3 linked regions of the Homo sapiens genome follow. The protein of the gene in region 1 interacts with the protein of each later gene in a biochemical or structural test. Each region holds a gene or a part of one and is shown in the gene's direction. Other genes may lie near its edges.

Region 1 (4,274 bases):
GAAGTCCAGGGTTCAGGAAAGATGGTCTAGGCTGAAAGTATACATTTGGGCATCATTAGCATAAAGATGCTCTTTAAAGCCTTGAGGACCAGATGAGATCACTAAGGGAAGCAAGTGTTTCAAGGAAGAGGGAGTGATTCACTAAGTCAAATGCTGCTGATAGGGCAAGTGAAGATGGGGCGTGGCAATGAATGAATAAACGCCAGGCCTGTTAGATATGCAAAGCGCCAGTGATTATTGAGGGTTAACTGACAACAGACAGGTGTAGAGACAAGATGGCTCTAAGTCACAGGAACACTTAGAGACACAGGGAAGGGAAGAACTATGGCATCTTGGAGTTGGAAAGGACCTTAACTAGGTCATTGAATCTGTACTCTTTTCCCCACCCTAGCCTGACAATTGAACCCTTGGCTGTAGAACAAGAAATATTTGCGGGATACTGAGGCAAACAGTCTGGCTAGGTAGGTTAGAGAAAGTACCGTTGAAGAATGAGAAAAAGGGTACTTCAGTAAATGCTGGACAGCAGAGGCAGGGTGAGGGAGTGGAGATGACCTTCCGAAGTCAGAAAACCAAGGTTCAGGTCCTGTATCTGCTGCTCCCTAGCCTCCTGTCCTTGGGCAAGTCACTTCACCTTCTCCAGCCTCAGTTTCCCCATGCGGCGACATCTGAATATGGTAGTGCTTGAAGGTAGTGTAAAAGTGTCCTGCCTGTGTTAGTTACTGCCAGAGCAAGGGAAGGAGGCCAAGAGAAGCCCTTGGTTTGGGATGGCAGATAGGACTATCAAGATCTCCGCAGGTGGGCTGGCGCAACGTGTGGAGAAGCGAACCAGCATTCAGGCCAGGACCTGGGCTGGAATGGACTGGGCTCGGGTGGCAAGGGGGCCATCTGGACAAAGACCGTGGCCCTGAATCTGCCTCCCCTGAGCCTGGAACGGAGGTGGAGACCCCGAGGCAGCAACAGGGAGAAGAAATAGAGACGCTGAGGCAGAGAGACCAGAAGACTCAGAGACGGGGAGACTAAGAGACAGACCCAGCAACAGGCGGCCTCACGGGGGCCCGCGGCGACCCGGAGAGGGCGAGGCACCGGGACACAGACCCGGGCCGAGAGGAGCCCCCGCGAGGCGCAGGGCCGTGGCGCGCGGGCGCAGGGTCCCCGGCGGGGCCAGGGTGGCCACACTCGCCGGGCGCCCCCTCCCGGGCCGCTCGCCCAAGATGGCGATGGAGGGGCGGGTGAGGCGGCAGCGGCCCTGGCCCCCGCGCCGGCCCCAGCTCGGGCCCGGGCCCCCGAGGCCGCGCCCCCGCCCGCGGCGCCGCGCCTCCCCGGGCCACTGACGCCCGGCGCGCTCTCCCCCCGCGGCGGCGGCCGAAGCACGGGGAGGCGGCGGCGGCGGCGGCGGCCCGAGCCCAGCCCCATGGCGCGGGGGGACGCCGGCCGCGGCCGCGGGCTCCTCGCGTTGACCTTCTGCCTGTTGGCCGCGCGCGGTAAGGGCGGGCGCCCGGAGAGGCAGGAGCGACTGCGGAGTGCTGGTGCGCCCGCGCCCTGGTCTGCATCGGGCTGCGGGGCTGGCTCAAGCCGGAGTCCCGAGCAAGTGCGGGGGCTGCGCGTCCAGGTGCCCGCGATGCCTGCGCGGGGGTCTGCGAGCTGCGGCCGGGGGGCGTTTGTGGGGCGTGCTTGTCCGCAGTGGGTGTGTGCCTTTGGTTCGCAGAGTCTGGAGTCGTGTGTGTGTGTGTGTGTGTGTGTGTGTGTGTGTGTGTTGGGAGTGCTCCTGTCGTGTCCGCAGTGCGTGCCATGGTCGCGGCGTGGCATCGGCGGGGCGGGTAGCTGCGGTGTCGGTGGCTTTCGCGGGGCGGGCTCTGCCTTGCCTGCGCGTGTCTTGGGTTGAGAGTGTGTGTAAAAGAGGAGGGAACTGGGGTTGTGTCTGCACCTCCATTTGGGTCGGGTGCGTGTGCAATTGTGTTTATGGGGCTGAGCTAATATTTGGCCTTGGCATTTGGGAAGTGTCCTTGCCCATAGTGGGGGACAGAGCGATGGATCCCGTTTGACTGGGGGTGGTGGTGATAAAACAACACTCAACTTTGCCCAGTGGGTGTGGTCCCTGGGGCCGGTTAGAGAGGGGTAGAGGGAGGTGTTGCTCCCCAAAACCTGTGGCCAGCAGTGGACTGGGGGAGGGGGCAGGAAACCATTTGCTTTCGTGGACATGTCCAGCGCTTGTTCTCACGATGGGACGCGTGTCACCCCGGCCCCACCCCCCAGGGACCGACCAGGGAAGCGTGGACGAGGTCAGCAGGGCCTCATCCAGTCCGCAGCCCAGTGCGGAGTGGGTACGGGGTAAGTCAGAGTTGTCCAAGCTGGAGAAAGGGCTGGGGAGGGGATAGCGAAGTCCCCAAGGGTGTGTGTCTAGGGCTGCGGCTTCCACCCACAGCTCTGTCGCTTCCTGTCCGGTGTGCGTTTGGGGGCGGCTCATGGGGAGTGTAGGTGGCAGGGCTGGGAGGGGGATGGGCTGGCCGCTTTGTTCGCCTAGTTCTTGCCTTCCCCGCGGAGGGGGGAGCTGAGGATGTGTCCGGGGAGAGTCGGGGAGGGACTTGGAGGTGGGGGTGGGGAGGGGGATTTCTCTCCAGCTGCTGCGGCTTTCCAGAGAGACTCAGCCAGGCCACGTGGGAGGGAGGCGGGGGGAAGGAGCCTCCGCCTGGCCAGCCCCAGGCCCATCTCCAGGAAAACCAAACAGCGGGTGGGAAAGTGCCGGGAACTCCTCGGACCCCTTCTGTCCCTACAAAGACACGCCCCTTTCCAGCCCCAACAGCGGATTAAGCTGGAGGCCGCCGCGAGGCTGGGTCTCGGCTGCTGGGCCAGAGGAGCTGGAGGCCCTGGCTTGTCAGGTGAAAGGGGCGGGGAAGTGTCAGAGAGAGGTCTGTCTTCCCAGAGCTCAGGGGATTAAGGAATAGTTCCCCTGCCCCACCTTCCGCTATTCCTAGGGCTCCTGGAACGAGCTCAGGGTCACCCAGCTAAACGGCATCAGGGCTGGGAACCGCACCGGCGCATTATTCAATACCTTTAGGACCTGCCGCGAGGGACCCAGCTTCCCTGGCCTCTCCCTGCTCCCGAACGCACAAAGCAGGCGAGGGACCGAGTTGCGGCGTCTCTTGGTTGCAGTGTGAGTGGCTACAACAGCTTGCCCTGGTCCTCCAAATCTCAGCAGGCCGGGGGACACTCCAGTCGAGTCATGACTAGCCACCCTGATCTGTACTGAGGTCATTCATTCGTTCAACAAATATTTATGGAGCACCTTTTATAGGCTAGCTTGTGCCTAGTGCCTAGAATATAGTAAATAAGGAGGCAGACCTGATCCCTGGTGCAAAGCTTTCAGTCTGGTGGAGGGGGAAACTGACAAGTCCCCTGAAGTGCTGGGGAAGACGCAGGAAGGAGGGGCTCCTACACCGATCTGGGAAGGTCAGCAAAAGCTTCCTGAAGAAAGTGATGAGTAGTAGAGCTCGACATGGAGTTAGCCCTGTAGAAGGAGAATGATGATGGGGACAGTTTTCCAGAGAACAGCATGTGCAAAGTTCAGAGGTGATTTAGTTGAGATCATTGGATTAAACTAAATCTAGCTGGAGTTTAGGGACAAGGGGTGGATGGGGGGCAGGTGAGGGAAGCATGGAAAGGGGTCAGGGAGTATCAAGACAGGAGGCTGAAGAGGGGAGCTAGATCCAGCTCACAAAGGGCTTTACAGGGCCCACCAAGGTTTCTGGCCTGAGAGTCCCCATGAGCCCTTGACAGGATTTAAAATCAGCTTTGCATCATCTCATTCCAGCCAGTGTGGAGGATGGATTGGGTGGGGCTGGAGGCAGGAAGCTCCAGCTCCTTCGAGGCTGTTGTAGCAATCCAGAAGAGAGGATGGTGGCAGCTAGCATAGTGGCAGTTGGGGTTGGGCTGGAGTGGCTGCATTCCAGAGATTTTCAGGAAATAGAATCAGTAGAACTTGAGGATAGATTGAATTTGTAGGGGGCGAGAGAGAGGAAAGTAAGAAATAGGCCGGGTGCGGTGGCTCACGCCTGTAATCCCAGCACTTTGGGAGGCCAAGGCGGGCGGATCACGTGAAGTCAGGAGTTCAACACCAGCCTGGCCAACATGGTGAAACCCCATCTCTACTAAAAATACAAAAGTTGGCCAGGTGTGGTGGTGCATGCCTGTAATCCCAGCTACTCGGGAGTCTGAGACTCGAGAATCGTTTGAACCTGGGAGGTGAAGGTTGCAGTGAGCTGAGATCACGCCACTGC
Region 2 (3,648 bases), on another chromosome or scaffold:
AGCTTCCTTTGTGTGTTCCTGGAGCTCTTCCTTGTTCAGGACACCTGAGCTTCCTTCCTGGGGCTCAGGCCTTGCCTTCCTGTCCTCAGCACTGTGTGCTGCTTTGCAACACATCTCCTTGTGGGTAGGGGCAGAGAGAATCTCTGCATCCCCTCTGGTCAAGGCCTCCTAGTCTGTAGTCACACAGGTGACAGCTGGGGTTGCATCTGTTCCTTGCCTACAGGTGAACTGGGAATTCGGGAAAGGGATCACTTTATAAGCCAGCTTTTGCTCATAAAAATCCCAAAATCTTGCTGGTTCACAGCCACAGACGTTGATCACTTGCTCATGTTCCATGTTATAGCTGTGAGCTGGCTGTGGCCCTGCCCCATGTGTCCCCTCATTCAGGACCCAGCTGGAGGAACAGCTCCAGTGTGGAACATGTCCGTTCTGTGGCCAGGCTGCACACACCATTGCATTTAAAGTTTCTGCTCGGATGTGATGTGTGCCCCGCCCATTTACAGACCAATCATTTTTTTTTTTTTTTTTTGAGACAGAGTCTCACTCTGTCACCCAGGCTGGAGTGCAGTGGTGCGATCTCGGCTCACTGCAAGCTCTGCCTCCTGGGTTCACGCCACTCTCCTGCCTCAGCCTCCCGAGTAGCTGGGACTACAGGCACCCGCCACCACACCTGGCTAATTTTTTTGTATTTTTAGTAGAGACGGGGTTTCACCGTGTTAGCCAGGATGGTCTTGATCTCCCGACTTCATGATCCGCCCGCCTTGGCATCCCAAAGTACTGGGATTACAGGCGTGAGCCACCGTGCCTGGCCTGCACGATCCTCTTACAGGAATGGGGGAGCAGTGGTGAACAGGCACCATTACCAAGGCTGATCAACAGGTGCTTAATAGAACAGGAAAAATTAGAAACAAGTCTGATAGGGTTTCTCAAAAGCAGGGGGATTTTGCCATGGTTTTAGTTATATTATTCTTTCAGCCACTACTGTTGCACACCTTCTGTGTGCAAGGCCTTACTTCTGGTCTGTAGGGGATCACAGAAAAACAAAAAGTGGACATAATTATAATACAAGGAGTGCGATGTAAGGGAATGGGAGGAGATATTAAGGCATGAAAAGCAGCTTAGAACTGGGGAAAATGAAGGAAGAATCATCGAGGAGGTGGCATGAGGATTGAAGGATGGGTGTACGTGAGTAGTTAGAGGCCCTAGAAATGGGGAGAAAAATATGAAAATGTAAAACTGTGAAATAGGAATTCAACAAAGAGTTAGGAGATTGGGTCTTAAAATTGTCTTCCTGATGATATGTGACTTGTTTTATATAGATATGTTTCCAGTTTTAAATATATATATCTATAATTTTCAAATACACGTATATTTTGAGGCAGAAATGATTCTGGGTTGTGAATACATCAAAAGGATACCATGAAAAATTGTGGAATTTTAAGAGCATCACTGCTGCCTAGGTCTTGAGTTCCTTCTGTGACACACAGTATTGCCAGCTCTGGCTTACATACCTCCAGGGATACAGAGCTCACTACCACTGAGAGCCATCTGTGGATTTTCCAATGGTTGAAAAGATCTTATTAAGCTGGAGTCTGCTGCTTTGAAACGTCCACCTTTTGGTCTTAAAAGTACTTCTTGGGACTCCACAGGGCCCTTCACTCTCCACTGGCACCATTTCCTGCTGGGGAGAGATTCGAAGTGAAGGATCATTTCCCCCACCTTCCATGTAACACATAGTTGATTGTAACGGAGCAGGCTTACGTTCTCTAATTCTTTCTCTCCTTTTCTTCCTAGGGTCTTAGAAACATTGATCATGGGATGATGGAAAAGTCAAATAACGGATCTTTGTGCTTCATGAAGAGTTGGAAAACCTGTGTGTGTAGATGACCCCTTTTGTGTGTTTTTAAAAATTAGATGCAAACTAGATCTGTATGCAGATGTAGTTTTTAGCAGGGCAAACAGTGAGAAACGGATTTGCATGTGGCTTTTTTATACTTTTGAAATGAATTGTTCCATGAGAAGTCTTTTTGTAATTATTCTCTTCCAGGGAGATCACAGAACGGCATGTTTGCAATTTCGAAAGGGCTCGTGTCAGCTGTGACTCTTTACCTCATTTGTCTATGACCTATTAGTGGTGCTCTGTGACTTAGTGTGTGTTGTAGAAGGAGGGATGAGGGTCCCAGCTGTCCTCTGCCTGACTGTAACTTGCTGTGTGACCTGAACAGATCCCTTCCCCTCTCTGGGCCCTGGTCCCTTCATCTGTGAGTATGGCATTTTAACTGGATGTTATCAATGTCCCTTTTAGCCCTGCCATCCTAGATTAAGATGGCCTTTTGGGAAAATAACAGGAAGTGTGGTCTTAGTGTTCTTTCTAAAATGGTATTCCCTCAGAAACAAATTCCATTGCTTTACCCCAACGTGTGGACAGCTGGCTGTAGCTCTTCTATTCCTAACTTTTTCCCTTTGAAGGAGATTTAGTTTTAGGTGGGATGCTTTACCAGACTCAGGAGCGCCTTGGCTGGGTCTTTGGAGACCAGAGCATCCATTTGTTAGCCTAGCATTCTCTTTTTTAAAATTTTATTTTGAGACAGGGTCTCGCTCTATCACCCAGGCTGGAGTGCAGTGGCGTGATCATGGCTCACTGCAACCTCCACTTTCTGGGCTCGAGTGATCGTTCCACCTCAGCCTCCTGAGTAGCTGGGACCACAGGCATGCCCCACCACACCCAGCTATTTTTTTTTTTTTTTTTTTTTTTTTTGTAGAGACAGGGTCTCCCTATGTTGCCGCCCAGGCTGGTCTCAAATTCCTATGCTCAAATGATCCTCCTGCCTTGGCCTCCCAAAGTGCTGGGATTATAGGCATCAGCCACTGTGCTTGGCCTAGCCTAGCATTCTCTAAACAGGTGGTTAGAAGCGGTGGATACCAGGCTTCTGACGATCAAATTGTAAAAAAAGGGGTCAGGTGTTATCTCCAGACTGTGGAATTAGATTGTAGTAGAATATATTTTACCTACAAACATTTTGACCTCACCCAAGAGTAAGGCTCTCTTTTTTTTCTTTTTTAATGAAAAAAGAAAGGAGAATATTTGCTATCTTATCTTAAAAAAATAGATCCTTAGGTGATTACAATTTTAAAATAAGAATTGAGAGCCCTTACTATGCACAGTCCTTTAAGTTCATAAAGCTTGATCCCAACTCTGGGAGATGGGGCAGGACAGGTGTTAATGTCCCTGCCTTTAGCAGATGAAGAAACCAGGCTCTGAGAGGAGAAGCTACTTGCCCAAGGCCTGAAGGCCTCTGAAAGAGGAGCAGAGCTCAGGGCACCTGGCCCTCCTTGGTCCCCTCTCTACTCCACGGTGCTGCTACTCAGGGTCATCTCAAAACTATGTAAAGGCAGATGTTGCCAATCCACAGGCTTCAGGGACTCTTATCAAGACTCATCCCAACTTTTAAGGCACACTTTCACACCGCTCACATTGTGCATTACATTTTGGAGTCCTTGTTGGAAGTGAACTTTCCGCCTGTAAGCCTGCCATTCCATGTCTAATATATTGGGATGGCATCACCTTCTGTACTATGCAGCAGAAGGAGACTGGCCTGGGATTCTGGAAACATGAGATCCATTTGCATATTAATCCCCGGCTCGCTG
Region 3 (3,028 bases), on another chromosome or scaffold:
TGGGAGTTAGTGGGAACAAAATTACAGGTGGTTGCAGATGATGGAAGATAATCTTCCAGCCAATGTTTGAACAATCACTCTCTCTCCTGGTCCTCAGCCATTTGCTACCTTCCAATCTGCATCTGTCTCCTTAGCCCCACTTCAGCATTCCAACCCCCAAGTCTCAGCAGGTGACTTGCTATTCTGTTTCCTGAGAAAGAACTGTCTCCACTTTCGGCCTCCCTCCTTCAGTAATCACTGCAGTCTCAGCCACTTCTCCCTTCTGCTTCTGCTCCTTCTAGTGTCTCTTGGGACAGAGATTAAAACAAGACATGTAAATTTGAAATTATTTCAATATCAAATAGAGGAATCCAAGAGAATGAATAAAGTGCTTTCTTAAAGGGAGAGAGCAGAGAGACAAACGGGAGCCGGAACAATGAGCCGGCATCTGCACAAACATAGACATGCATACAATTACATTTAGAATTTACAAGCCATTAACTGAAGTAATCTCCAGGGATCAGATTGATGTCAAATTTAATTTTAACTTTCTCCGGTACTTTACAACTGTATTTTGTTAGAATTGGCTGTATATATTTGATAAACCTATAAAAGTTCCTTTCCTTTCTCTGGTTACACTAATAGCATTTGAATATGAAAGGGAGGAGAAACCAATTTCTCCTTGAATGTAAACCATCTATTCTTTTTCTGGAACTCACTGAAAAATATGGCATAGGTGGAGGGTTTTCTTCTTTAAAAAAATAAGAACTCTAAACAGCTTTATTGAGGTAGAATTCATATACTAAAAAATCCACCCATGCAAAGTGTACAATTCAGTGATCTCCAGCACATTCACAGAGTTGTGCAGCCATCAACACAATCCAACTCTAGAACGCTTGTATCCTCCCATAAAGAAACCCTTGCACCTATTATCAGTCATTGCCCTATCCTTCTTCAGCATTGGCAACCATCAATCCACTTTCTGTCTCCATAGGTTGGCCTATTCTGGACATTTCATATAAATGGAGTCATATAATATGTGGTGGGTTTTTTTTTTTGAGATGAGGTCTTGCTATGTTGCCCAAGCTGGTCATGAACTCCTAGCTTCAAGTGATTCTCCCACCTTGGCCTCCAAAGGGCTGGGATTACAGGCATGAGCCACCGTGCCCAGCCTATTGTGTGGTCTTTTGTGACTGGCTTCTTTCACTTAGCATCGTTTTCGAGGTTCATGCATATTGCAGGATGTACCAGAACTTCACTCCCTTTTATTGCTGAATAACATTCCATTGCATGGACACAGCACTAATATTTGGTATATTTGAAGTTTGTACAGCTTGTGTAGGATGAAGCTCCTTCTCTGTTCCTCACATCACCACAACCCCAGTGTGTGCATTTGGGAGGTCAGTGGAATGGCCACACCCACCCAGAAGAGACTTCTTGGCTAAGCAGGGGAGGCGTGGATGATGCCACCTTCTTTTTCTCCCCAGGAAATAACAATGAGGCATGGGCTAAGGATTTGAAGCTGGCAGACTTTGCGCTGCTGTGCCTCGATGGCAAACGGAAGCCTGTGACTGAGGCTAGAAGCTGCCATCTTGCCATGGCCCCGAATCATGCCGTGGTGTCTCGGATGGATAAGGTGGAACGCCTGAAACAGGTGTTGCTCCACCAACAGGTATGGACCACAGGGCTTCTAGTGCTTTCTTAGCTGTGTGGGCTCATGTTAGGTGAGGAGATCACAGAGCTAGGTGCACCAGCCCACTCGATCCTCTCTAGTCCTCTACTTGAAGCTCATGGTGAGAGTATTGGCTTCATGCTGTGGCGTTGCCCAGAGTGTCAACAAGAACAACAGAGGCTTTTGACTCTGGGCTTTCTGGGACTCACTCCATTTCTGCTGAGACTCTGTGCCCTGGCCTTGTTGCCATCACTGCCTGGCTCAGAGGCTGTCTTTTTCCCTCCTGCTGTTCTTCTGGCAAATGAGGAAGCCACTGAGCCTTCCTCCCACATGCATTAGTATAGTGCTTTTTACTCAGGTGACATTTCCTGAACCTGGGCCGAGTGAACAGTGCTCTAGGCCAGGCCTCTAAAACAGCAAACTCAGAAGGTGCCCTATAGATTTAGGGCTCTCTAAATGTGATTTGAACGAAATCCCAAAATTTTCTTAAAATCTGGGATTTTATTAGAACTTCTATTTTTATCATATAACATCATGTCTCTGTGTGCTTTTGAAGAAAACAACTCAGGAATAACAAGACTGGCCACCATAACTGGCCTTTATGGAGCTCTTAATGTGCACACACAGTGGTGCTGGTGAGAGAGCTGCCGTGACTGAGGGGTTTGGGTCTCAGTCTCCCCACATGGGAGCCTGGGACAGAGCAGGAACTGTGTGAGGGAGGCAGGGTGACCGACCTGCACACTGAGCTGGTTAGTGGCTGAGCCTGGGTTTTCCTAGCAGCCTGCCTCTCTAGAAGAGCTGCATATTAGAATGTCCTGAGCAATTGACTTGTGAGGGCAGATCTCAAAACCCCTCCATTGTTGCCTTGTCACCCATAAGAAGTTGTATGGGAAAAGGTCACAGGTTAAGAAGGAAGGAAAGATGGCAGATGGTAGGAGGTAGGACCAGAAGTGGTGCGAGGCCTGGATGCTGCCCAAGGCGGGCCTGCCACCAGGAGTGTGGGGTGGGGGACTCCACTAAGGAGGTGGAATGACTCCAGAACTCAGCTCCTTCTGCCCCATGGTTTTCTCAGGGCTGTTCTTGGGTGGAAGAAATACCCCTTTGCCTCCTTTAACCCATAAATTCCTCTTTTCCTTAGCTACTCACTGTCTGCCCTTTTGTCGCAGGCTAAATTTGGGAGAAATGGATCTGACTGCCCGGACAAGTTTTGCTTATTCCAGTCTGAAACCAAAAACCTTCTGTTCAATGACAACACTGAGTGTCTGGCCAGACTCCATGGCAAAACAACATATGAAAAATATTTGGGACCACAGTATGTCGCAGGCATTACTAATCTGAAAAAGTGCTCAACCTCCCGTAAGTAGACCCTAGCTAGCA

The links.
Region 2: the proteins of IGDCC4 (region 1) and IGFBPL1 interact in a biophysical measurement, tested with the Homo sapiens proteins (one large-scale study listed by IntAct).
Region 3: the proteins of IGDCC4 (region 1) and LTF interact in a biophysical measurement, tested with the Homo sapiens proteins (one large-scale study listed by IntAct).

The regions. Positions count from the first base shown.
Region 1 is NC_000015.10:65,420,000-65,424,273, reverse strand, and holds the start of IGDCC4 (immunoglobulin superfamily DCC subclass member 4 precursor), read left to right. Parts: upstream 1-1,326; 5' UTR 1,327-1,411; coding exon 1,412-1,481; intron 1,482-1,871; exon of another isoform or gene 1,872-2,219; coding exon of another isoform or gene 2,220-2,328; intron 2,329-4,274.
Region 2 is NC_000009.12:38,407,364-38,411,011, reverse strand, and holds part of IGFBPL1 (insulin-like growth factor-binding protein-like 1 precursor), read left to right. Parts: intron 1-1,794; 3' UTR 1,795-3,648. UniProt on the Homo sapiens protein: IGF-binding proteins prolong the half-life of IGFs and have been shown to either inhibit or stimulate the growth promoting effects of the IGFs in cell culture. They alter the interaction of IGFs with their cell surface receptors.
Region 3 is NC_000003.12:46,437,919-46,440,946, reverse strand, and holds part of LTF (lactotransferrin isoform 1 preproprotein), read left to right. Parts: intron 1-1,466; coding exon 1,467-1,651; intron 1,652-2,817; coding exon 2,818-3,007; intron 3,008-3,028. UniProt on the Homo sapiens protein: Transferrins are iron binding transport proteins which can bind two Fe(3+) ions in association with the binding of an anion, usually bicarbonate. Lactoferricin binds to the bacterial surface and is crucial for the bactericidal functions.